Linked DNA regions of Homo sapiens: region 2 is linked to region 1. The links come from fine-mapping of genetic effects on gene expression. A gene starts in region 1. The other region holds a variant in brackets. All regions are shown on one strand. Distances are between the middles of the regions.

Region 1 (12,524 bases):
GGCCCGCCACCATCAGACGTCCTATTGGGATGGGCCTGGGTTTTCGCCATCAGATACCCTCTAGAGTGAGCCCTCCACCATCAGACGTCCTACTGGGACAGGCCTGGGTCTCCACCGTCAGACACACTTTAGGGGTGGGCCCTGTGCCATCAGACATATTATTGGAATAAGCCTGGGTCTCCACCATCAGACACCCTTTAAGTGAGCCCTCCACCATCAGACATCCTATTTGAGCAGGCTTGGGTCTCCACCATCAGACACCCTTCAGGGTGGGCCCTCCACCATCAGACATCCTGTAGGGTGAGCCCTCCACCATCGGACATCCTATTGGAGCAGGCTTGGGTCTCCACCATCAGACACCCTTCAGGGTGGGCCCTCCACCATCAGCCCCCGGACAGGGCTCGTTTCCCCAGGGAAGGGACTGAGTCTTCCCCTCACATCCCCCATCTCCTGGTATCCTCCGGACTTTCTGGCCCCAGCGCCTCCCAGGAATCCCCAAGCCCCATGCGCTCCACGGCTGTGCCCGCCCTGGCAGGGCCCACCTTGCCCACGTAGTAGAAAGGGAACCAGGACAGGAGTAGATCGCTGAAGAACTCGGCCAGCCCAAACAGGGCGTACACCACCCAGTAGGTGAGCCACACAGTGTCGTCGTCCTTGCTTGGGCTCTCGATAGCTTTGATTCTGCAGGGAGGGTGCAGCAGGGTCAGGGGCTGCCAGGGAGCCCCCAGAACCCCCCGCGTGGGCAGCCAGCCGTGCACTCACGAGGCATATGCGGGGTACACAAATCCGATGAGATTGCACAGCAGAGACGCTCCGTAGCCGAACAGCAGATACAGGCTTAGCAGAGTGACGGCTCCTGCCGGAGAGAGGCGGTGGTGTGCCAGGGCTGGGGACCCGCTGAGCCCCCACGACGGTACCCAGGCCGCCTTTCAGTCGACGAAGACTGCAACCGTCACCTCCTCCCAGGAGCCGCCTCCAGGATATGTCCACTGCCCCTGATGTGCCTGTACATCCCCCATCGTGCCTCTAGGCCCTGAGCCTTGTGCCTGTAACTGGTCAACGTGTCCATGTCCCCCACCGGGGTTGAGAGCTCCCCAAGGGCAGGCAGGAGCTCGACGCTGGGCAGTGGGGGTGGGTGCGGAATAGCTGCCCAGTGAAGTGTTTGCAGCCGGGCGCGGTGGCTCACACCTGTAACCCCAGCACTTTGGGAGGCCGAGGCAGGTGGATCACGAGGTCAGGAGATGGAGACCATCCTGGCTAACACGGTGAAACCCCATCTCTACTAAAAATACAAAAGATTAGCCAGGCATGGCGGTGTGTGCCTGTAGTCCCAGCTGCTGGGGAGGCTGAGGCAGGAGAATGGCGTAAACCCAGGAGGCGGAGCTTGCAGTGAGCCAAGATCGCGCCGTTGCACTCCAGCCTGGGTGAGGCTCCGTCTCAAAAAAAAAAAAGTGTAATCTGCAACGATAGCCATCTCATTCCAGGCCCTTTGGGAGGCACTGGGAAAACAGGCCAGTGTTTCAATATAAGGGATGGCAGAAACCTGCAAGGGAGGCCAGGCTGTCATGAAGACTTGATTCTAGAGCTGAGAAAGGCAACTGTTTCATCTGTTATCTTAGCGCAGGGTTTCTCTGCCTTGGCACTGCTGATGTTCAGGGCCGGGTCATTCTTGGTTGTTTTCGGTGGAGAGGGGGAAGTGGCTGTCCTGGACACTGCAGGGTGCTGAGCAGTGTCCCTGGCCTCTGCCCACTCCATGCCATCAGCCCCCAAGTCATGACGACTACAGGTATCTCCAGACATCACCCAGTGTCCCCTGGGGCGGGGTGGGGGGCAGGGCTACCCCCTTTGAGAACCTCCTGTCTTGGAGGCAGCAAACCCCAGCATCTCGATCCCCTGGGTGGAGGAGAGCCCTTTGGTCGGGTGTGCACTCACCAGCCGGCACTGAGTGAGGCTGTGGCTGCATGGAGCCTCAGTTTCCCCCTTGGTAAGTGGGAGTAGTAATGGCCCCTGCCTCCTATGGTTACAAGTTAACAGAGAGAACGCCTTTCTGCACGTTTATTTCTATTTATTTTCGAGATGGAGTCTTGCTCTGTCACCCAGGCTGGAGTGCAGTGGCGCAATCTCAGGTCACTACAAGCTCGCCTCCCAGGCTCAAGTGATTCTCCTGCCTCAACCTCCTGAGTAGCTGAGCGTACCACCATGCCCAGCTGATTTTTGTATTTTTAGTAGAGACGGGGTTTCACCATGTTGGCCAGGCTGGTCTCAAACTCCTGACCTCAGGTGATCCGCCCGCCTTGGCCTCCCAAACTGCTGGGATTACAGGCGTGAGCCACCGCCATCAGCCTTTCTGCACATTTATTAAGTGCCTTCAGGCAACTATAACACAGTCCCAGCAAGGAGGGTGTTCAGAGAAAAACGTGTGTGTGTGTGTGTGTGTGTGTCCAGCTCAGCCCCAATCCTGAACCTGGCTCTGAAAAGAATGACTACGACAGCTGCATTTATTAAGCGCCTATTGTGTGCCAGGTTTTGTGCTTTTCCTGAATTATTCAACAGCCAAAACTGGGGGTGGGTGGGTGTTGCCCAAGGTCACACAGGGAACCTATGTGCTCCAGAGAGCTTGGACAGCCTTCTTCCTCCTCCCCTGGGGCTGCTATCTGCAGAGTGAGATAGAGGCCACTTCTGGACCAAAGGGCAGAGGCCCAAGTCCCCCCAGCCCCTCCCACCTGCTTTAGTCTTTATCCAAAAGCACCCAAGGTCAGGGGTAGGAGGAGTCCCCCAGCTGGTCCCAGGAGTGGCCTCCCAGTCACTGTCCCCTCTGAGTTTCTTCGTATGTTACCCAGGGGTGTGGGATTTGTCAATTTAAAGGAGGTGGGAGATGGGGATGAGGGACTGCCATCTCTCCCCGGGCCTGGCTCGTGGGGAGGAATGACTCTCCCAGGGCGTCCCTCCCCTAAATCCCTTTTCCTGCAGCTTCAGCGACGGGAGGATGACCTTGGACATCAGAACTGTGGAGGGAGGCCCAGCCCCCAAGATTAGCAGCAGATGGGACTGGGGGTGGGCAGGGTGGAGGACTGTATGCTTCAGACAGAACAGGCACAGAGGCAGCCCCTGCCTCCCTGTGCCTCAGTTTCGTCTCTGGTGACACGGTGCCCCAGGCAGCCCCTCCCTGCTGCCTGCCTCCTGGGCGCTCTACGACCTAAATTCCTGCCCACTAGCCCCAGGGATGTGGAAAGGGAGGGCAGAGGTCAGGGACCTGCTCCCGGGGGCAGGCACAGCCGGGCCATGCCCATGCCACCTGCTGCGCTGCACATGGGACCAGGCACCTGGGGACCTCCAGGGTGTGGGCACAGACTTCAGACTGTTCTGGCGCTGCCTGGCATGGGAACCCCCAGATGGTGGGAAAATTGGGGGGGAACTGGACTCCTGGGATCCACCTGCAGAAGGTGCTCAAAAAAGTGGCACTGTCCTCTACCCAGAATACCCCAGGCCCAGAGCAAGTCCTTGTGAGTCATTCTGCGGAGCTTCCTGGAAGAGAAGGCAGAGCCAGTGGGGCTGGGAGCACCACACAAACGGAAGAAAGGCTGGGTGCAGTGGCTTCCACCTGTAATCCCAGAGCTTTGGGAGGCTGAGGCAGGAGGATCGCTTGAGCCCAGAAGTTTAAGACTAGTCTGGGTAACATAGTGAGACCCTGTCTCTTAAAAAAGTTAATTTTAAAAAGTTTTAGGCCAGGCAAGGTGGCTCATGCCTGTAATCCCAGCAGTTTGGGAGGCCGAGGTGGGCAGATCACCTGAGGCCAGGAGTTCAAGACCAGCCTGGCCAACATGGTGAAACCCCGTTTCACCATGTTGAACGGCTAAAAATACAAAAGTTAGCCGGGCATGGTGGTGGGTACCTGTAATCCCAGCTACTTGGTAGACTGAGGCAGGAGAATCGCTTGAACCCAGGAGGTGGAGGTTGCAGTGAGCCAAGATCACACCACTGCACTCCAGCCTGGGCAGCAGAGCAAGACTCGGTCTCAAAAAAAAGTTTTAAAGGTGGGGAGGGAGGCATTTAAGGAGCGTTTACTACATGCTCTTGCTAGAGATTTGGAAAGGGGAAGGGGCGCGCAGCGTCACCAAGGGTGAAAGTCACGGAAGAACTGTAATGGAGTCACAATCGGGGTGCCTGGATCTCCGGCTCTGTGGGCCCCAGTCCAGCCTCCCCACATCACAGCCGTCAGACAACCCAACTCCGTCTTAACAAACATTTACGCTCGGTGGCACTAAGCCATTGAGCTGGGGGAAGGTGAGCTAGGGCAGGAGAGGAGGAGGAAAGGAGAAGGGTCCTGGGCAGGCCCCCAGGACGGTCCGTTCCCCTTCCCGCCAGGAGCCTCCCCTCAGAAAAACGGGAAGATCTCTACTGTTGCAGCCAGGCCGGGGTCCACGGGGGAAGGGGGACGGCGAAACGCGCAGGACACTGGCATCCCGACCCCTCTGGGGCCACTGGGCAACTGGAAGAACCGGACTTCGGCATGGCAGGCACCCAGCGCCCGGAAGGAGGCGTCGGGGGGCGGCCAGGGGCGGAAGCTAGAGAGGGGTGGCCCGGGAGCAGGGTCGCAGGGCGCGGGCAAGGGAAGGGCTGCGGGCGGACCTCGAGGTCCCAGTCACCTCGCGCGCTCCACCGGCCGGACCGGACCCCGTAGCCGGGGAAGGAGTCCGGTCTGCGACCCCCAGGCCCATGGCCTCGGTGTGCCCGTCGGCGAAACGGGCTAGCGCCGACGGCTCACCTGCAGCCAGATACCGCTTCTCCACCCCGGTCTTGGCCTCCAGCGCCCCCAGCACTTCGGTGACCAGGTTCCTTTGCTCCAGGAAGTGCTCCACGCGCTGCCTCAGGCCGTCCATGGCCCCGACGCGCCCGGGGTTGGCTGCTCGAGCTCGCCCGCGGACCAGGGCACCCACCCCGCTGCACGCGCACCGCTTTCCCGCAGCCTGAGCCGCGATGCTCCGGCCCCGCGCCGGTGTCCGCCCCCGGCCCCCCGCTAGGACCAATGGGAGGGCAGGGCGGACAAAGGAGGAGGGGCCTGCCCCGTCTCCCCCGCCGCATAGCCCTCCGCCACGGCCGCCGCTGCCCAGACCCCGCCGGGAGAGGGCGGGGCGCGGCGGCCCAGGGCACCGATTGGCCGGGCCGGAGCGAGACGTAGCTGATTGGAAGGGCGGTGTCAGAGGATGGGATTATTGGCTGAAGGGTGGAGCCAGGGCGAGGAGAGGCGTGGGGGGGCGGAACCGGGGGGAGGGGCTAAAGAAACATCCGAGCCGATTGGAGAAACGGGACGCGATTCATTGGCGAGACCAGTGGAGGGCGGGGCTGATCACAAAGGAGGCAGGGCGGAATGGTAGGGGCGGGAACGGGGCGAGGCTTATCGGAGGAGGCGGGATTACGCAAAAGAATGATTCTGATTAGGCCGGACAGGAGGCCGGGCTGATTCTCGAAGGAGGGGTGTGTTGGAAAGTGGGAGAGGTCAAACAAAGGGTAGGACGCGTTATCGCAACAGTGAACCCGCTTCTCTGGGTTAGTCTTGTCGTTGTACAAATGGGAAAACTGAGGCTCCCGAGGGTGTGGGTCTGCGGAAGACGGGCAGGCGTGCGTCCCTCTCCCGCTTCTGTTAGATCTTCGCGCCCCTCCTGGCTGAGTAGCCGCAAGGCCCCCTGGGAGTCGAAGCCTTCTGCGTTGCTATGGCGCCGGGGGCGGGTCGGACGCCTGGGCCCACTCGGCGGTTTGGCGGGAGGGAGGGGATTTGCGCAGGCCCCGCTCCCGCCCCGCCTCCATGCGGCCCGCCCCGATTGCGCTGTGGCTGCGCCTGGTCTTGGCCCTGGCCCTTGTCCGCCCCCGGGCTGTGGGGTGGGCCCCGGTCCGAGCCCCCATCTATGTCAGCAGCTGGGCCGTCCAGGTGTCCCAGGGTAACCGGGAGGTCGAGCGCCTGGCACGCAAATTCGGCTTCGTCAACCTGGGGCCGGTGGGTGGGACCGGGATAGACGGGAAGTGGGGGCTTGGAGGGGACTGAACAACCCTAGACCCCGACAAGGGGGAGGGAGCCCACAAGGTCTTCTAAATATCAAGAGTCCCAGCCCACCCCTGCCTCAGCCAAGCTCAGCTTCTGGGACTCCCAGAGAGCACCTGCTGGGGAAGGACAAAGAAGGGGGCTGTTACCGGCCCTCGGGGGCTTCAGCAGGGGAGCCGGGTCCCATCGGTGCGGCCGCTTCCCCACATCCCCAGATCTTCCCTGACGGGCAGTACTTTCACCTGCGGCACCGGGGCGTGGTCCAGCAGTCCCTGACCCCGCACTGGGGCCACCGCCTGCACCTGAAGAAAAACCCCAAGGTGAGCCTGGCCTGGAGGCCAACCCCCTGCCCGGGGTCTCAGCTGCCTCCTGGGGCCACCAGCCATCTTCTGTGGTTCTCGTGGTTGTTATGAACAGCTGTGTGCTTTCTGTGGCTCAGACCCGCCCGGGCCCCAAGTCTATACAGCAAGAGGAGGCAGGAAGACCCAGATACGGAAATCATGGCGCCTGCCAGGGCCTGGTACACAGTGGGCACCTCTTGTCCTCCCCCTCCCTCCTCTGGGCCCCAGGGGCTCTGGTAAGGAGGGACAGACGGCGTGACTTCCCCACCGTCTAGGTCATGGGATGGAGGGAAGGGGATTTTACGACACCGTAATGGGTTCCAAAGAGTAGGAGGCTTGGCCCGGCGCGGTGGCTCACGCCTGTAATCCCAGCACTTTGGGAGGCGGAGGCGGTCGGATCACAAGGTCAGGAAATCGAGACGAGATCCTAGCGAACACGGTGAAACCCTGTCTCTACTGAAAATACAAAAAAATTAGCCGGGCATGGTGGCAGGCGCCTGTAGTCCCAGCTATTCAGGAGGCTTAGGCAGGAGAATGGTGTGAACCCGGGAGGCGGAGCTTGCAGTGAGCCGAGATCGCGCCATTGCACTCCAGCCTGGGCGACAGAGCGAGACTCCGTCTCAAAAAAAAAAAAAAAAAAAGTAGGAGGCTTACAGTCACCCAGTGGCCCTCAGGACGCAGTGTCCAGGCGCTCAGAAAGGGGCCTGGGTCCCATCGGGCTGGGCCCTGTCTAGAAAATGCCTGGGATGTCAAGCTGAGGGGTTGGGATGGAGCCTGGGAAGCCCTCGGAGGCCAGGAAGTGCCTTGAACAGGACTGGACAGCTGCCTGCTTACAGCACCGGGAGGGAGAGCAGTGGCCAGTTCCTGATGTGGTTTGCAAGAGAGAAGCCAGGCCTGGCGTGGTGGTTCATGCCTGTAATCCCGGCACTTCGGGAGGCCAAGGCAGGCAGATCACTTAAGCTCAGGAGTTCGAGACCAGCCTGATCAACATGGCGAAACCCCATCTCTACTAAATGTACAAAAATTAGCCGGGCATGGTGGTGTGCGCCTGTAGTCCCAGCTACTTGGGAGGCTGAGGTAGGAGAATCGCTTGAACCCAGGAGGCAGAGGTTGCAGTGAGCCAAGATTGCGCCACTGCACCCCAGCCTGGGCGACAGAACAAGACTCTGTCTCAAAAAAAGAAAAAAAATAAGGAAGTGATGCAGGAGAGAGATAGAAGGATCTAGAACAGGGATGGGGGAGAGAGTGGGGTGGGGACCCGGGGACCTGCAGTCACCCGCGGCAGCAACGACGCGTCTGTGGGCCCAAGGACAGGTGGTCCAAAAGCCTCGACCCCTTCCGACTGCAGACAGAGCCCCAGGCACATGGGGACCCTGGAGAGCAACCCCCACAAACACAGGGTCCCAGGGCACGGGGCTGCCTCACTCCCTGAACCACGAGGGGCCCCAGGGGCGAGCAGGGGACAGGCCTGATGCACCCTCTGCTCTGCAGGTGCAGTGGTTCCAGCAGCAGACGCTGCAGCGGCGGGTGAAACGCTCTGTCGTGGTGCCCACGGACCCCTGGTTCTCCAAGCAGTGGTACATGGTGAGCAGGCAGCCAGGGTGGGTAGACGGGGACGGGGCCGCTGGCGCCCTCAACTCCAGGCCCTCACAGGGTCACAACCCCGCCTCCCCCTGCAGAACAGCGAGGCCCAACCAGACCTGAGCATCCTGCAGGCCTGGAGTCAGGGGCTGTCAGGCCAGGGCATCGTGGTCTCTGTGCTGGACGATGGCATCGAGAAGGACCACCCGGACCTCTGGGCCAACTACGTGAGACCGCGGGTGGCTGTGGGCGAGGGCTGCCCCAGGTGCCGAGGCTGGCACCACCCTAGGGACGCCTCCCGGCCCCCTCATATCCCCACCTGCCCCCAGGACCCCCTGGCCAGCTATGACTTCAATGACTACGACCCGGACCCCCAGCCCCGCTACACCCCCAGCAAAGAGAACCGGTGAGCAGGGCTCCCACAGCACACGGGGGAAGCCCCAGTACCCGGCAGGGGGATGGAGGCCGTGACAGGAGCCCCTCTTGGCCCTGGCACCAGGCACGGGACCCGCTGTGCTGGGGAGGTGGCCGCGATGGCCAACAATGGCTTCTGTGGTGTGGGGGTCGCTTTCAACGCCCGAATCGGAGGTACCCGGGGTCCCCCAGCGGCACCATTCCGGGACAGAGAGGGAAGGGGGTGACTCTGGCGGGGAGCTGGGCCCAAGGACTCGGGAGCCCACCCTCTCACTGCTGGGTGGTGCTAGGGCCCCAGACTCCAGGGCTTGGGGGGTGCTGAGCCAATACGAATGGTCCCACTCCAGGGAGCAGAGAGAGGGCCCAGGTAGGGCTGGGGAGTGGTGTGGAGTGGCGCGGGGCGGGCTGGGGTGTGGGGAAGGGCAGGGCCGGTGGCAGCGGCCCTCCCGCCCTGGCTCTGCAGGCGTACGGATGCTGGACGGTACCATCACCGATGTCATCGAGGCCCAGTCGCTGAGCCTGCAGCCGCAGCACATCCACATTTACAGCGCCAGCTGGGGTCCCGAGGACGACGGCCGCACGGTGGACGGCCCCGGCATCCTCACCCGCGAGGCCTTCCGGCGTGGTGTGACCAAGGTGAGTGGCAGCCCGAGGAGGGCAGGGGTGGCAGGCCAGGCCGACGCCCCCTCCCCGCCCCTCCTGGTTTCCCAGGGCCGCGGCGGGCTGGGCACGCTCTTCATCTGGGCCTCGGGCAACGGCGGCCTGCACTACGACAACTGCAACTGCGACGGCTACACCAACAGCATCCACACGCTTTCCGTGGGCAGCACCACCCAGCAGGGCCGCGTGCCCTGGTACAGCGAAGCCTGCGCCTCCACCCTCACCACCACCTACAGCAGCGGCGTGGCCACCGACCCCCAGATCGTGAGTGCAGCCGCCCCAACAGGGTCCCCTCCCCAGGCCCTGCCATCCCAGCCTGGCCTCCTCCTGTCCCCACCACTGTGACTTAGCACCCTCCCAAAGCTGCTTTGAAAATGCAAATCCAGGCCGAGCACGGTGGCTCACACCTGTAATCCCAGCACTTTGGGAGGCTAAGGCAGGCAGATCACAAGGTCAGGAGATCAAGACCATCCTGGCTAACATGGTGAAACCCTGTCTCTACTAAAACTACAAAAAAAAAAGGCCAGGCACGGTGGCTGACGCCTGTAATCCCAGCACTTTGGGAGGCCGAGGCGGGTGGATCACGAGGTCGGGAGATCGAGACCATCCTGGCTAACAGAGTGAAACCCCGTCTCTACTAAAAATACAAAAAATTAGCCGGGCGTGGTGGTGGGCGCCTGTAGTCCCAGCTACTCGGGAGGCTGAGGCAGGAGAATGGCATGAACCCGGGAGGCAGGGTTTGCAGTGAGCCGAGATCGGGCCACTGCACTCCAGCCTGGGCGACAGAGTGAGACTCCGTCTCAAAAATCAATCAATCAATCAATCAATAACCCAAATCCAGGCCAAGCACAGTGGCTCGCGCCTGTAATCCCAGCACTTTGGGAGACCAAGGTGGGTGGATCACCTGAGGTCAAGAGTTCAGGACCAGCCTAGCCAACATGGCAAAACCCCATCTCTACTAAAAATACAAAAAAAAATTAGCCAGGCATGGTGGCGGGCGCCTGTAATCCCAGCTACTCAGGAGGCTGAGGCAGGAGAATCGCTTGAACCCCAGAGATGGAGGTTGCAGTGAGCCAAGATTGCACCACTGCACTCCAGTTTAGGCCACAGAGCGAGACCCTGTCTCAAAACAAAACAAAACAAAACAAAACAAAAACAAATCCAGCCGGGCGCAACAGCTCACTTTGGGAGGCCAAAGTGGGAGAATCACTTCAGCCCAGGGTTTCTTTTCATTTGTTTGTTTTTGAAGATGGAGTCTGGCTCTGTCGTCCAGGCTGGAGTGCAGTGGCGCGATCTCAGCTCACTGCAAGCTCCGCCTCCCGGGTTCACACCATTCTCCTTCCTCAGCCTCCTGAGTAGCTGGGACTACAGGTGCCCGCCACCATGCCCGGCTAATTTTTTGTATTTTCAGTAGAGACAGGGTTTCACCATGTTAGCCAGGATGATCTCGATCTCCTGACCTCGTGATCCGCCCACCTCGGCCTCCCAAAGTGCTGGGATTACAGGTGTGAGCCACAGTGCCCAGCACTTTCTTTTTTCTTTTGAGATGGAGTCTCGCTCTGTCACCCAGGCTGGGTGCAACAGAGTGAAGTGGCATGATCTCAGCTCACTGCAACCTACGCCTGCCGGGCTCAAGCGATTCTTGTGCCTCAGCCTCTTGAGCAGCTGAGACCACAAGCATGCCACCATGTCCTGCTAATTTCTTTTGTATATTTTGTAGAGATGGCATTTCACCATGTTGGCCAGGCTGGTCTCCAACTCCTCAGGTCAAGCGATCCACCAGCCTCGGCCTCCCAAAGTGCCGGGAATAGCAGGCCACGCCACCATGCCCGGCTAATTTTTTTGTATTTTCAGTAGAGACGGGGTTTCACCATGTTGGCCAGGCTCTTAGTTCTTTTTGAGCATAGTCCTTGTTACTTCTTGAACTCAGTCCTTGGAGTCCTTGGTACCTTTTTTTTTAAATTTTTTTGAGACAGAGTCTCACTCTGTCACCCAGGTTGGAGTGCAGTGGTGCAATCTTAGCTCACTGCAACCTCTACCTCCCAGGCTCAAGCGATCCTCCTGCCTCAGCCTCCTGAGTAGCTGGGATTACAGGTGCACACTACCACACCCAGCTAATTCTTGTATTTTTCCTGTAGAGACGGGGTTTCACCATGTTGCCACAAGCTGGTCTCAAACTCCTGAGCTCAAACAATCTGCCCGCCTCAGCCTCCCAAAGTGTTGGGACTACAGGCGTGAGCCACTGTGTGGCCAGTCCTTGGTACTTTTTGACTTCAGTTCTTGGTACTATTTTTTTATTTTTTTGAGATGGAGTCTTGCCATGTTGCCCAGGCTGGAGTGCAACGGTGTGATCTTGGCTCACTGCAACCTCTGCCTCCTAGGTTCAAGTGATTGTCTTGCCTCAGCCTCCCAAGTAGCTGGGATTACAGGTGCCCCGCCACCATACCCGGGTAATTTTTTTGTATTTTTAGTAGAGACAAGGTGTTGACCAGGCTGGTCTCGAACTCCTGACCTCCGGTGATCCACCCACCTCGGCCTCCCAAAGTGCTGGGATTACAGGTGTGAGCCACCGCACCCAGCCCTTGGTACTTTTTGAATTCAGTCGTTAGTACTTTTTTTTTTTTAATCCAGAGTCTGGCTCTGTTGCCCAGGCTGGAGTGCAGTGGCGTGGGTGTGATCTCCGCTCACTGCAACCTCTGCCTGTCGGGTTCAAGTGATTCTCCTGTGTCAGCCTCCCGAGTAGCTGGAACTACAGGTGCCCGCCACCATGCCTGGCTAATTTTTGTATTTTTGTAGAGTTGGGGTTTCACTATGTTGACCAGGCTGGTCTTGAACTCCTGACCTCAGACAACACGCCCGCCTCAGCCTCCCAAAGTGCTGGGATGACAGGCCTGAGCCACTGCGCCCGCCCAGTCCTTGGTACTTTTTGAAGAAGGGCTGTATTCTCACTGTGCACGGCCCCCCGAGTCCCACCCCCCTCTGCCCTCAGGTCACCACGGACCTGCATCACGGGTGCACAGACCAGCACACGGGCACCTCGGCCTCAGCCCCACTGGCGGCCGGCATGATCGCCCTAGCGCTGGAGGCCAAGTAGGTGACTGCGGGGCCCGGTCCACCGCCCTCGCCCCCAGGCGCGGCCCGGCGGCTCACCCGCCCCCGCCCCCGCCCCCCGCAGCCCGTTCCTGACGTGGAGAGACATGCAGCACCTGGTGGTCCGCGCGTCCAAGCCGGCGCACCTGCAGGCCGAGGACTGGAGGACCAACGGCGTGGGGCGCCAAGGTGCGGCGGGGCCGGGCGGGGGCGGGGACCCGGGGCCCACGGGGCGAGTGACTGCTGCCCTTCCGCGCAGTGAGCCATCACTACGGATACGGGCTGCTGGACGCCGGGCTGCTGGTGGACACCGCCCGCACCTGGCTGCCCACCCAGCCGCAGAGGAAGTGCGCCGTCCGGGTCCAGAGCCGCCCCACGTGAGACCCCTGCGCGCCCCTCCG
Region 2 (10,976 bases), 43 kb after region 1:
CCAACTGACCAGTCGACCGACAGACGATGGGTCGGCCTCTCCTTCCCAGCCCCCAGGACACATCCTGACAGCCGGACAAACACACAGACAGCTGGGACAGCCTAACCCAGCAAGCCGACTGGCCAGCCCAGCACCCCCAGGCTCACAGCCAGAGAGGGCGACAGACAGACAGACAGGACCCTCCCCCATAAAAGCAAGCCTGCCCAGAGGCTGACAGCCAGACACGCGGGGCGGACAGACCACCAGCTGTCCCTGCCGATGGACAATGAAAACACCACGAAGGCCAGTGGGTGACACCTAAGCTGTGCAGAAACGGCAGGACAGATGGACCCAAGCCCACCGCCATCACCGCAGCAGCCCCACGACCCTCCATCGGTGGCTGAGCTCAGGGTGGCTACCTGTGTGGCCCGCACCCCCTGCGCAGCCTTCAGCTGGTCCCTGCTGGCCCCGGCAGCCCCTGCCCCATCCCTTGACTCTGCCAGCGCGCTGGCTTCTTTGTGCCTCTGGCCGTCTTCTGGCTCTGGCCTGGCCTCCTCCCTCTGTCCAGCTGGCCGGCGCCTCCTCCCTCGGCTCGGCCCTCCCGCCGGAGCCCCCCTTCACGCCCCCCTTCCCTCTTTGTTCCTTTCCCATCAGCGCTCGCCTCCTCCCTCCGCCTTTGTCTCAGACGCACCAATGGCAGCCCATCCCTCTGCCACCTCCCCCTGCCAGCCTGAGCCCCTTCCTCACACCGGCCCTGTCCAGCCCACCTGCTCCTCCCCTCCCTCCTCCACCTGGCCACACACATGTATTCACCCGTCATTTGTTCTCTGACCCCCAGGTGCCCCCTCATCCCCTCCCCTCCCACCCAAATGTCACCAGGGGCACGGCTGGGACAGGAGTAGGGGTGGGGGCTCAGTCGCAGGTGGGAGGATGGAGTCGGGCTGTCCCGTCCTGCTCAGGGGACGCAGTGTGTGGCTTGCCATGTCATCCGGCTCCTTCTTGGTCTGTCCTGAGTCTCAGGGACCACCATTTGGCTGTTCCCAGAGGGAGAAACGAGGCCCTAGGAACCGAGGTCTGGCACCCAGATGCTGCCCCAGAGGGGCTGGGAAGTCCAGGCTGGAGGCCCGACAAGACCCGCCCCTCTCTGGCTTTGGGTTGCCCCTCTGAGGAACCTGCAGGGCAGGAGTGCCCAAGGGCAGGGTGGGAGGGGCACAGGGACTGGAAGTCAGGTGGCAGAGGCTGGCACCTCCCACCCTGATCCGATGATGTCCAAGGCTGTTCAGGTCTCCAGTGGGGATCAGGCTTGGGGTTGGGGGCTACACGCAGGGAGACCCTGGGGTCTGGCTCGAGCCCCATGTTCCAGCTGAGGTCACCATCCCATGCCCAGCCAGGTGGAAGGACCAGATGACGTGCAAAGCAACACATGTCTGCCTCCTGCTCCCCAAACCCAGGCCTCCCCCACGTGGTTCTTCTCAGCTGACCGAAGCCAAGCCTCAGACACCTTCCCTCTCCCCACATTCGGTGGTCATTTCTGCATCCTCATCAGACTAAGCTAGTCCCTCCAAGCTCTGCCCAGCGGGATCATGCCTCCCCCAGCTCCTGACACCCCTCTGTGAGGACATTCTGATCAGCCTCTTCCTGGCCTCCCACAGTCCCCCATGCACAGCCAGAGGGAGCTTTAAACGTCACAAGTGAGATCCCATTTCTCCCATGCTCAAACACCTTCCATGGCTCCCCAGTGCCCTCAGGATACGCTCCGACTCCTCCATGTACACCGCGACTCACTTAGAGGCTGGAGGCTCTCTTCTCTCAGGCCTTTGCACGTGCAGTTGCCCTGCCTAGAGCACCTTTTCTAAGTCCTGCCATCCCACACAGTGCAGCTTCTTCCACGAAGCTCTTCTGCCTACTTTCACCCCCAGGTTGCATCGTGTAGCCTCCTGGGGGCCTTCCTGAGCGATCACTCCCTGAAGGCACCATGACTGGGGGCTGGTCTTATTGAGCGGGCTGCATTTCAGGGGAGGGAGGCACAGGTATGGGAAGCCAGGCCCAAAGGGGCCTTTCTCCTTCCTTTAATCCAAACCCCCTCTTTCCAGAGAGGGAAACTGACACCCAGAGAGGTGCAGCAACACCCCCGAAGACACACCACTGGCCTGCCCATCCCTTCCTCCGATCACCTCAGGGAGGTCCGGATGGTGAAGCCCGTGAGTGGGTGTGTGCGCAGGACCGGCTGCAGAAACGCTGACGCCCAGCTCACCGGGACTCAGTTTCCCCTCCAGCTCCCACTCTGGGGAAATGGAGGGTCCAGAGTCTGTGCTGACGGGCAATGCTGAGAGCCAGGGATGGAAACCTCGACGCGAGGCGGAGGTCGCGCCCCTGCCCTCCTCCCCGAGGACACACACCCGCTTACGTGCAGCTGGGCTGGCGGGGCGCCTGGGTCTGGGGCCTCCTCCCTCTGCGCGGCTCCGCGGGCCCCACCGGAAATCCCGGCCCGGGGTGGCCTCGGAGCGCGCGGGCTCCGGGGTCTCCGCGGCGCGGGCAGGGGCTCCGGGGCGGACAAAGCCCGGTCCGGGCCTGGGCAGGCGGCGCTGCCGCTCCTAGCGCTGGGCGAGACCACCGCGAGCGGGGGAGGATGCGGGATGAGGGATGCGGGTGAGACAGCCAATGAGGGCGCGGGAAGACGGGCTGGTGCCATGGCAACAGCCAATGGCGGCCCGGGGCGGGGACCGGCGTCGGCCGCGGGGCGTCGGGCCTCCGCGCGGGCTCAGGGGCCGTGAGTGCGGGGGGCGAAACCCCCCCGAGGGAAGGGGGTGCCCCGAGGACCAAGATTCCTGTGTCCCGCACTTTATTGCAGGGTGCAACGGCCTCTTAAAACCTCCTGCGTCTGGATTTGCAGAATTGGAGAGTAAAACATCAAATCCTGGATGTTACATCAGCATCTTGGCGGGGGAGGGGTTTCCAGGGCAGTGGCCGGGCTGGGGCCAGGCCTGCACCCACCCCACAGGTCCAGCCTGGCCTGGTGCAGGTGCGTCAGGGTGGGACAGGGTTCGGGTCCAGGCTGGAGCTCCCTGAGGGTCCTGCCTGGTGGGGAGGGGAGAGGGGAGGAGGGGCAGGGCCACTGGGGAGCACCTGGGACGCTGCATCTCCCCACATTTCTCCCTGTCTCCCCAACGGAGCGTCAGATCCTCCTGTAACTCCGTTGCTCTTCATGTCCCTCTCTCTTTCTGTCTCCCCCTCTGTTCTCTGTCTCTCAATCTCTGTCTCCATGTGTCTCTGCCCCTGGTGGGTGGCACACTTAATTCACCCTCACGGACCGAAGGCCAGAGGAGGGAAGGGCCAGGGGTCCCAGGAGTCGCCATCTCCAGGTGTCCTGGATGCTCCATGAGTCCCTGGAAGCCATTTGAAGGTTTAACACACAGAGCCCGTCCCTGCAGCTCGGAGCAGCCCTTCCTGCTCTGGACACAGACTCACAGCACAGAAAGGGAGGCGACTGGGGCCAGAAGAGTGATTTTT[TTC/C]CGTGCTGGGCAGGCAGGGCAAATCATTCGCCGCTCAACCCTCGGTTTCCTCCTCTGTAAAATGGAGAGGAGGCGGAAGATTCTGCAAGGGCTGGTGCAGGGAATGATAGGAGAGGGTGGGAAGGTCCGAGTATTCAAGGCCCCGTAGACAAAGGCAAGGGAGGACCCGTGCTGTTTCCTGTTGGGCCTTGAGCTGAAGACCCGAGGGCCTTGTCCCGGGCCAGCACTGCCAGGGGCTGAGAGCCCTTCGGCCTGGCTGTCTGGGAGCCCCCAGAGCTGGACGCAGCTGTCCCCACTGGTTGGGTCTGGGGAGGCAATGCAGTGGGCAGACACAGGGGATCTTTTCTTTTTTCTTTTTCTTTTTTTTCTTTTTTTTTTTTTTGAGACGGAGTCTTGCTCTGTAGCCCAGGCTGGAGTGCAGTGGCACGTTCTCGGCTCACTGCAAGCTCCGCCTCCCAGGTTCACGCCATTCTCCTGCCTCAGCCTCCCGAGTAGCTGGGACTACAGGCGCCCGCCACCACGCCCAGGCTAATTTTTTGTATTTTTTAGTAGAGACGGGATTTCACGTTAGCCAGGATGGTCTCGATCTCCTGACCTCGTGATCCACCCGCCTCGGCCTCCCAAAGTGCTGGGATTACAGGCGTGAACCACCACGCCCGGCCTTTTTTTTTTTTTTTTTTTAGATGGGGTCTTGCTCTGTCCCCCAGGCTGCAGTGCAGTGGCGCCATCTCGGCTCACCGCAACCTCCGCCTCCTGGGTTCAAGTGATTCTCCTGCCTCAGACTCCTCAGTAACTGGGATTACAGGCATGTACCACCTTGCCAGCTAATTTTTGTATTTTTAATAGAGAGGGGGTTTCACCGTGTTGGTCGGGCTGGTCTCAAACTCCTGACCTCATGATCCGCCCGCCTCGAAGGGGATTTTTTTCTGGAGGCTGGAAGGCTGCCCTGAGAAGTGAACAGCAGTGATCAGGAGGAGAGGCGTTCCAGGCTGAGGGAAGATCAATGCATGCTTGGGACACAGGGGGTGTCTGGTGGAGCCATGGGGTAGGGCGCGTGGTGGGGTTTGACAGGTCAAGCCGGGGCAGAGCTGGGCGAGGCTGAAATGGGGTTGGGGATGCAGAGCCCAGGGCCCTGGCTTCAGCTCAGCCTTGTTGTCCCTGTGTCCCCCTGGGCATGTCTCTCTCTGGCCTCGGTTTCCAGTCTTGTTTACTGAAGGGTGGGTTGGATGATCCCTGCCTCCCCCAAAGAGGAACTAAGTCCCACCTCCCTGTGTAGTTTCAGATGTCTCAGCTCCCCAGGCCCCCATCAGGCAGGGGTTTGGGGGATCCAAGGTCAGTCCTGTCCTTGTATACATGGGGAAACTGAGGCCTGGGCCAGGGAACGTGTTGCCTGAGTTCACCTGTGCCAGCCAGGCCTCCGGAGTGACACTGAACCTCCCTTCTTATCCCTCTGGGGGTGGCCAGGGCCTGGAGGGCTGAGGGTACATGGGGGCTGAGACCCCAAGACAAGATGCCCTTGGCCCCAAATCTACAAAACATTATGTCCCTGAACAATCCCCCCCCACACACTAAAATCCTCGACCCTGTAAATCCTTGAACCACAGCCACACTCAGACATCACCAGACATTTCAGAGCCTCAAGAACCCCCCACAGCCCCCTAGGACTTCAGGAGACTGAGAGAGGTCTCCCCCTTCTCCCACTGCAGAACGCAGGGCCTAGCCCAAGACCCCGACCTAGGCTCCTCCCTGGGGTCCTCCACGCCCCCTACTGCTGCTGGGCTAAAGGGGAAGTTCCATGAAATGCTCACTCCCCCACCCCTGTCCTGTGACACCTCCCCGCAAGTCCGCAGCCTGGCACACGGCTCACTCTTGGAGTGTCTTTGAGCCTTCTGAGTCTGACCTCGAGCTGTCCCCGCCCCCTTGATGCCTCCTCTGTGCCAGGGGCTAGAGGCAGAAACAGGGGCGGCCCCCATCGGGAGCTGGGTGGGGACAGAGAAGGCACCAGGTCATCGCGGGAGGATAGAGACGGCCCGCCGCCGGCTGGGTGGCCGGGCAGAGCCCTGACCGGTGAGGAGGCCACCGGAGGTGGGGGAGGGTGGGGTAGGCCGGTCCAGGCCGCGCCCTGAAGCCTGACCGCCGCTATGGGCCTCAGTTTCCCCGGCGGCGAGTCGGCAGACGTGCGCCTCCGTCAGCACCGCGGACAGCTCCCCGGCCCCCGCCCCGCGTTCTCTTGCGGGCGCCTTAGCTCCGCAACGAGGCTCCGGCCTCGAAGCGTGACCTTGGGCTCCCCGCTGCACCCCCCAGCCTCAGTTTCCCCTCCAATGAGGGATGTCACAGCCGCGAAATTCAGACGATTCCGGAGGCTGGAGAAGCGCTGGGGTCGGGAGCGGACGGATACGAACAGCAGCGGCGGCGAACGTCAAAGCAGGCCATACGCTCGCGCCCAGAAGGGGAAACTGAGGCCCAAAGAAGCGCAGGGCGTGGCCCAGGCCCCCACCCTGCGCAGGGCCGAGCCTCCGCAGGATGCCCCCGCAGCCGCCCCCGCCGCCCCAGCTGGCGCAGCCTCCGCGTCGGCGCAGTGAGGAGGGGTCCGAGGGTCTCCTGCAGAGGCCGAGGGCTGGGCTGGGCGAGCCCTGCGCTTGCGCAGACCCGGGGCTGGGGGTCGCAGCGGCGCACGAGAGGGGCTTCCATCCCCGCCAGCCTTCCGAGGCGGTTTCCCGGCAACGGTCTCTACGGCGACGGCACTAGACCCCCGACTCTGCAGCCTCCGCGCGCTCGCCCCATGCGCCCCCCGCCGCCGCGCCCGCTGTTCCCGCGGTGTGGACCCCGCCCCGTTCCTGCGCGGCCCGGAGCCCTCCCCAACGGCTCGACCCACGCGCCCTACCTGGTCCCCGAAGAAGGCCGAGTGCAGCAGGCTCAGGAGCCCCAGGAGCCCCATGGAGCCGCGGCCGCCCCGGACCCGCCGCGCCCCGCCCCTCGGCGGCCAGGGTGGGGGTGCGGGACGCGAACGGGGCCGCCCTGCGCCTGCGCGGAGAGGGGCGGGAGGGGTCAGTCCGCGGGCCCGGGGCGGGGCTCCTCCCGAAAGGGGCGAGGGCGTACCGTGGGGTCTGGGGGTGCTCGCGGGGGCTGGGGAGTCTCGCGGGACCGAGGCTGCGGAGGGGCGGTGGGAGATCCAAGGATGGGAGAGAGGGGAGGGGACTCGCGTGGGCCGAGCGGCGCCAGGGTCCGGGTCCGACCACGCTGGGGAGTTCGAATGCGGAGGAGGCTGGGGGGGCCCGAGGCGGCGGGGAGGAGGCCGGGTGGGGGTGGGGGCACGAGAGGTCCCACGGGGAATGGGGGTCGCGGGGGGCCAGAGGCGGCGTCGCCATGCGGCTGTGGTCCGCTGCCCGCGGACGGTCACCCTGCGGAAGCTCGGAACCACCCCCGAATCAGCCCGGCTTGGCGCGCTGAGGTTCATTAGTCATTCAGCAAACATCACCTGCGCGCACAAGGCTTGCTGGGCGCCGAGCTGGGCGCGCGGGGGGCCGCCGTAAGGGGGCGACACCGAACGCGGACATTCATGCAACAAGCATTTATAAAGCACCTACTGTGTGCTGGGTCCCCCTGCACTGAACAAAACAAAATCCAGGCCCTTGGGAAGCTGACGTGAACGAGGGGACTGCAGCGGGCTGGGAGAGACGCCAGCGCGGCGGGCAGGGCATGGGGAGCTGCTGGGGAGGCCGAACAGCCCTGGGGAGTGTTGGGGGAGAGTGCAGCCCGCGAGGGCAGTGAGGGCTGGGAGGCCCCGGGGGGCAGGTCGCGCAGGCCCAGCGGGAGGTGGGAGCCACCGCGGGCTGTGGACAGAGCAGGGCCGCGCCCGGCTCCAGGCTCGCGGGCGCCCGCTGGCGGCTGCGGGGAGAACAGGCCGTGGGCGGTGCCGGGAGAGGAGGGCGGAGGCGGCTGCGCGGGTCGAGGGCCGGATGATCGGGCGGAAGATGCGGCCCGGGCAGGATGGGGGCTAAGAGGGGTGTTATGAATTGTGCAAAGTCCCTGGAAACCAAAGAACGAGCGGCCGGAGAAAGGGGCGCCGCTTTAGCAGGGCGGCGGGGACAGGCCGCCTCCAGCAGGTGCCTCAGCTGAACCCTGGAGCGGGGACGGAGCCGTGCGGCTGCCGGGGAGGCTTCGGGGCCACCCAGGACTCCTCCTTCAGAAGTCAGGGGAGGGCGCCGAGTTCAGTGTAAACTGCCGTCCAGGGGGGAGGCCGCGGGGATGTGAGAAGCGCCGGGAACCAGGACAGGGCCTGAAGGCAGCTGACCCGCAAGCGCCGGGGCCAGACCTGAACCTGATGAGGACGGAGCTGTCTGTCTGAGACGGCACAGATGGGGCCGGGCAGGTCTGGGAGAGTCCATGCAGATTCTGGAGCGGGGTGTGGGACCAGAGGGTAGAAACAGAAGCGTGGGGCCGGGCACGGTGGCTCCCGCCTGTAATCCCAGCATTTTGGGAGGCCGAAGCGGGTGGATCACTTGAGGTCAGGAGTTCGAGACCAGCCTGGCCAACATGGCAAAACCCCGTCTATACTAAAAATACAAAAAATTAACCGGCGTCTTGGCGCATGCCTGTAGTCTCAGCTAGTCGGGAGGCTGAGCAGAATCGCTTGAACCCAGGAGGCGGAGGTTGCAATGAGCTGAGATTCTGCCAGTGCACTCCAGCCTGGGCGGCAGAGCTAGACTCCGTCTCAGAAAAAAAAAAAAAAAAAAAAAAAAGAAGTGCGGATATGGCCAGAGAGGCCTAAAGACAGAGCCTGGGCCTTGAGTTGGGAGTGGCCCTCGACAGTGGCACCCTAGTGCTAGTTAGAGGCTCCCACCCCACCTCCTGGACACCCCCCAAATTCTTGTGGACCTAGGGCACCACCTGGCCACCAAGACATGTGTCTCTCTGAACTGGGGGTATCTTTTTGCTTTAAATACTAATACATATTTTCCCTGATCACACATGCTGGATTCCAACTGCAGAAAACCAAGGGAAGTACCCATTAGCAGCCACGTGCTAGCCAGCAGGGGCGTGTGCAGGGAGGGCTTTTATGGACAGGAAACTTCCCGTAAAGGTCCAGACAGTAAATTTTCAGCGTCTGCCTGGCAGAAGTAATACAGGTATGAATGGGCACAGCTGGGTGCCAGTAAAGCTCTGCAAAAGCGAAGTGAGGCCCAGCACCCATTCCTATTATGCTTTCCTCAGGGAGGGCCCCCTGGGGCTTGTTCCCAGCTAGCTGCCTCATGATGGGCGCGGCCCCACACATCTCTGTGTCATTTGCTCTGCAGATAGACCTGGTAGCTCAAAAGCTCTGTCATTTCCATTTATTTATTTTTTTCTTTTTTTGAGACGGAGTCTCGCTCTGTCCCCCAGGCTGGAGTGCAGTGGCGCGATCTCGGCTCACTGCAAGCTCCGCCTCCCGGGTTCACGCCATTCTCCCGCCTCAGCCTCTCCAGTAGCTGGGACTACAGGCGCCCGCCACCACGCCCAGCTGATTTTTTGTGTGTGTTTTTAGTAGAGATGGGGTTTCACCATGTTAGCCAGGATGGTCTTGATCTCCTGGCCTCGTGATCCGCCCGCCTCGGCCTCCCAAAGTGCTGGGATTACAGGCGTGAGCCACCGCGCCCGGCTCCATTTGTTTTTTTTAGACGGGGCCTCGGTAAAGACTTCAAGTGTGCACCATGGTTTCCGGCACTTTTGATTTCTAAGGCTCAGGGTTGAAAACCATGTTGCAGATAAAGCTGTTTCAGTGGGACATCCACTAATTTCCCACTTTGCTTATCTGAGGCGAAAAGCACCTAACACCTCAGCAATTTCTTTTTTTTTTTTTTTTTTTTTTGAGGCGGAGTCTCCGTCGCCCAGGCTGGAGCACAGCACTTTCAGAGGCCGAGGAAGGCGGATCACCTGAGGTTGGGAATTGGAGACCAGCCTGGCCAACATGGTGAAATCCTGTCTCGACTAAAAATACAAAAATTAACCAGGCGTGGTGGCGTGCTTCTGTAATCCCAGCTACTCGGGAGGCTGAGGCAGGAGAATTGCTTTAACCTGGGAGGTGGAGGCTGCAGTGAGCCGAGATCGTGCCACTCAACTCCAACCTGGGCGACAGAGCGAGACTCTGTCTCAAAAAATAAAAAGAATTCTGAATGCTGACAACCGAGACTACAATGAACCCTGCCTACACATGCCTTCCCTCCCTCTCCTTGAGCTGGACCTGGGGTGGGCCTTCGAAGCTGGGTCCCGTACAAGCTTCTGCTGTTCACGCTGAAGTGAACCTGGCCAGTGCTGCCCAGAGACCTCCGGCGGCCACCTAGCAGCCAGACTGTAGCAGGATGAGCCACAGACAAAACTCCTGACACTGGATTAAAGAAGAGGTTTTTATTCGGCCGGCAGCATCAGCAGACTCGCGTCTTAAGCTCCCCGAAAAAGAGATTCTTGGCCTTTTTAAAGGCTTACAACTTTAAGGGGTCCACGTGAAAGGGTCGTGATACATCAAGCAAGTGTGGAAAACGTGAGTGGGGGCTGCATGCATCAGCTAACACAACAGAAAGTTTTACAATGCTTTTTCGTAGTGTCTGGAATTTACAGATAACACAAGTAGTTTAGGTCAGTGGTTGATGTTATTATTACTTTTTTTTTAACTCCTAGGGCCGGGTGGTGGTGCCAAGGTTGTCTGTTTATCTTACTTTTGCATTTTTTTTCCAACTTTTTGCATTTTCTCTCCTCCTGTCTTGTGAACTAGGCAAGGTGGTGGGAGGAAGGCAGCAGGAGTAGTAGTGGTCTCCTTCCTTAAGACCACACTCCAAACTTTGGACCGTTGGTTTCAAGCCCGGTGGGTTCAGGTCAACCCACAGGCGAATTTTCAAACATTCTACACATCTCAGGGGCTGCCAGCCAAGACTTGCCCCCACTTCTGACTACCCAGCCAGGTCCAGGCCCTCAGTGGCCTCCCCGGTCTCCTTACTTCCTGGCAGGGTTGGCCAGGGCGCCCGGTGCAGTGGAGGGCTTGAGGCACGACCACGTGCAGCACCGTCCCACTGGCTACGGGCCCCTCTGGACACCAGCCAGGCAGGTCCAGTCCCACCGACTCATGCTGCCTGGGGGTCTCCCGGCTGTACTGGAGCCAAGCTTATAACCCTGGGCCATCCTTCCTCTGTCCAACCCACCTTTTCCCAAACAGAGAGAAAAACACGGACCCACACTTTCTCTGTAATGTAACTTAATTCCAAATCGAGAGGTAAGAACACGAGCAAATCATGGTTTTTTTTTTTTTTTTTTTTTGAGGCAGAGTCTAGCTCTTGTTGCCCGGGCTAGAGTGCGATTTCCGCCTCCTGGGTTCAAGTGACTCTCCTGCTTCAGCCTCTCAAGTAGCTGAGATTATAGCCGCATGCCACCATGCCCAGTTAGGCTAATTTTTTTGTATTTTCAGTAGAGACAAGGTTTTACCACGTTGGTCAGGCTGGTCTCGAACTCCTGACC

Evidence for each region. PIP is the estimated chance that this variant, and not a neighbour inherited with it, causes the effect.
Region 2: its variant is the best candidate, but not a certain one, in a credible set for the expression of REEP6 in cerebral cortex (GTEx, PIP 0.55).

The regions. Positions count from the first base shown.
Region 1 is chr19:1,483,626-1,496,149 of GRCh38, reverse strand. It overlaps REEP6 (receptor accessory protein 6), which reads right to left and starts at 4,969. Exons shown (of 5, transcript NM_138393.4): 1 at 4,766-4,969; 2 at 763-856; 3 at 543-681. The coding sequence starts at 4,880. PCSK4 (proprotein convertase subtilisin/kexin type 4) reads left to right here and starts at 5,800. Exons shown (of 15, transcript NM_017573.5): 1 at 5,800-5,992; 2 at 6,253-6,357; 3 at 7,870-7,962; 4 at 8,058-8,186; 5 at 8,289-8,365; 6 at 8,459-8,547; 7 at 8,837-9,009; 8 at 9,085-9,297; 9 at 12,023-12,123; 10 at 12,209-12,312; 11 at 12,383-12,500. The coding sequence starts at 5,804. RefSeq lists silencers at 4,721-4,840, 4,871-5,410, 5,631-6,060.
Region 2 is chr19:1,441,741-1,452,716 of GRCh38, reverse strand. APC2 (APC regulator of Wnt signaling pathway 2) reads right to left here and starts at 2,596. Exons shown (of 15, transcript NM_005883.3): 1 at 2,379-2,596. RefSeq lists enhancers at 1-73, 74-707 and silencers at 2,550-2,749, 5,493-5,787, 6,437-6,486, 6,947-7,046, 7,097-7,486. The variant TTC/C (reference allele first, on the strand shown) is at 3,490.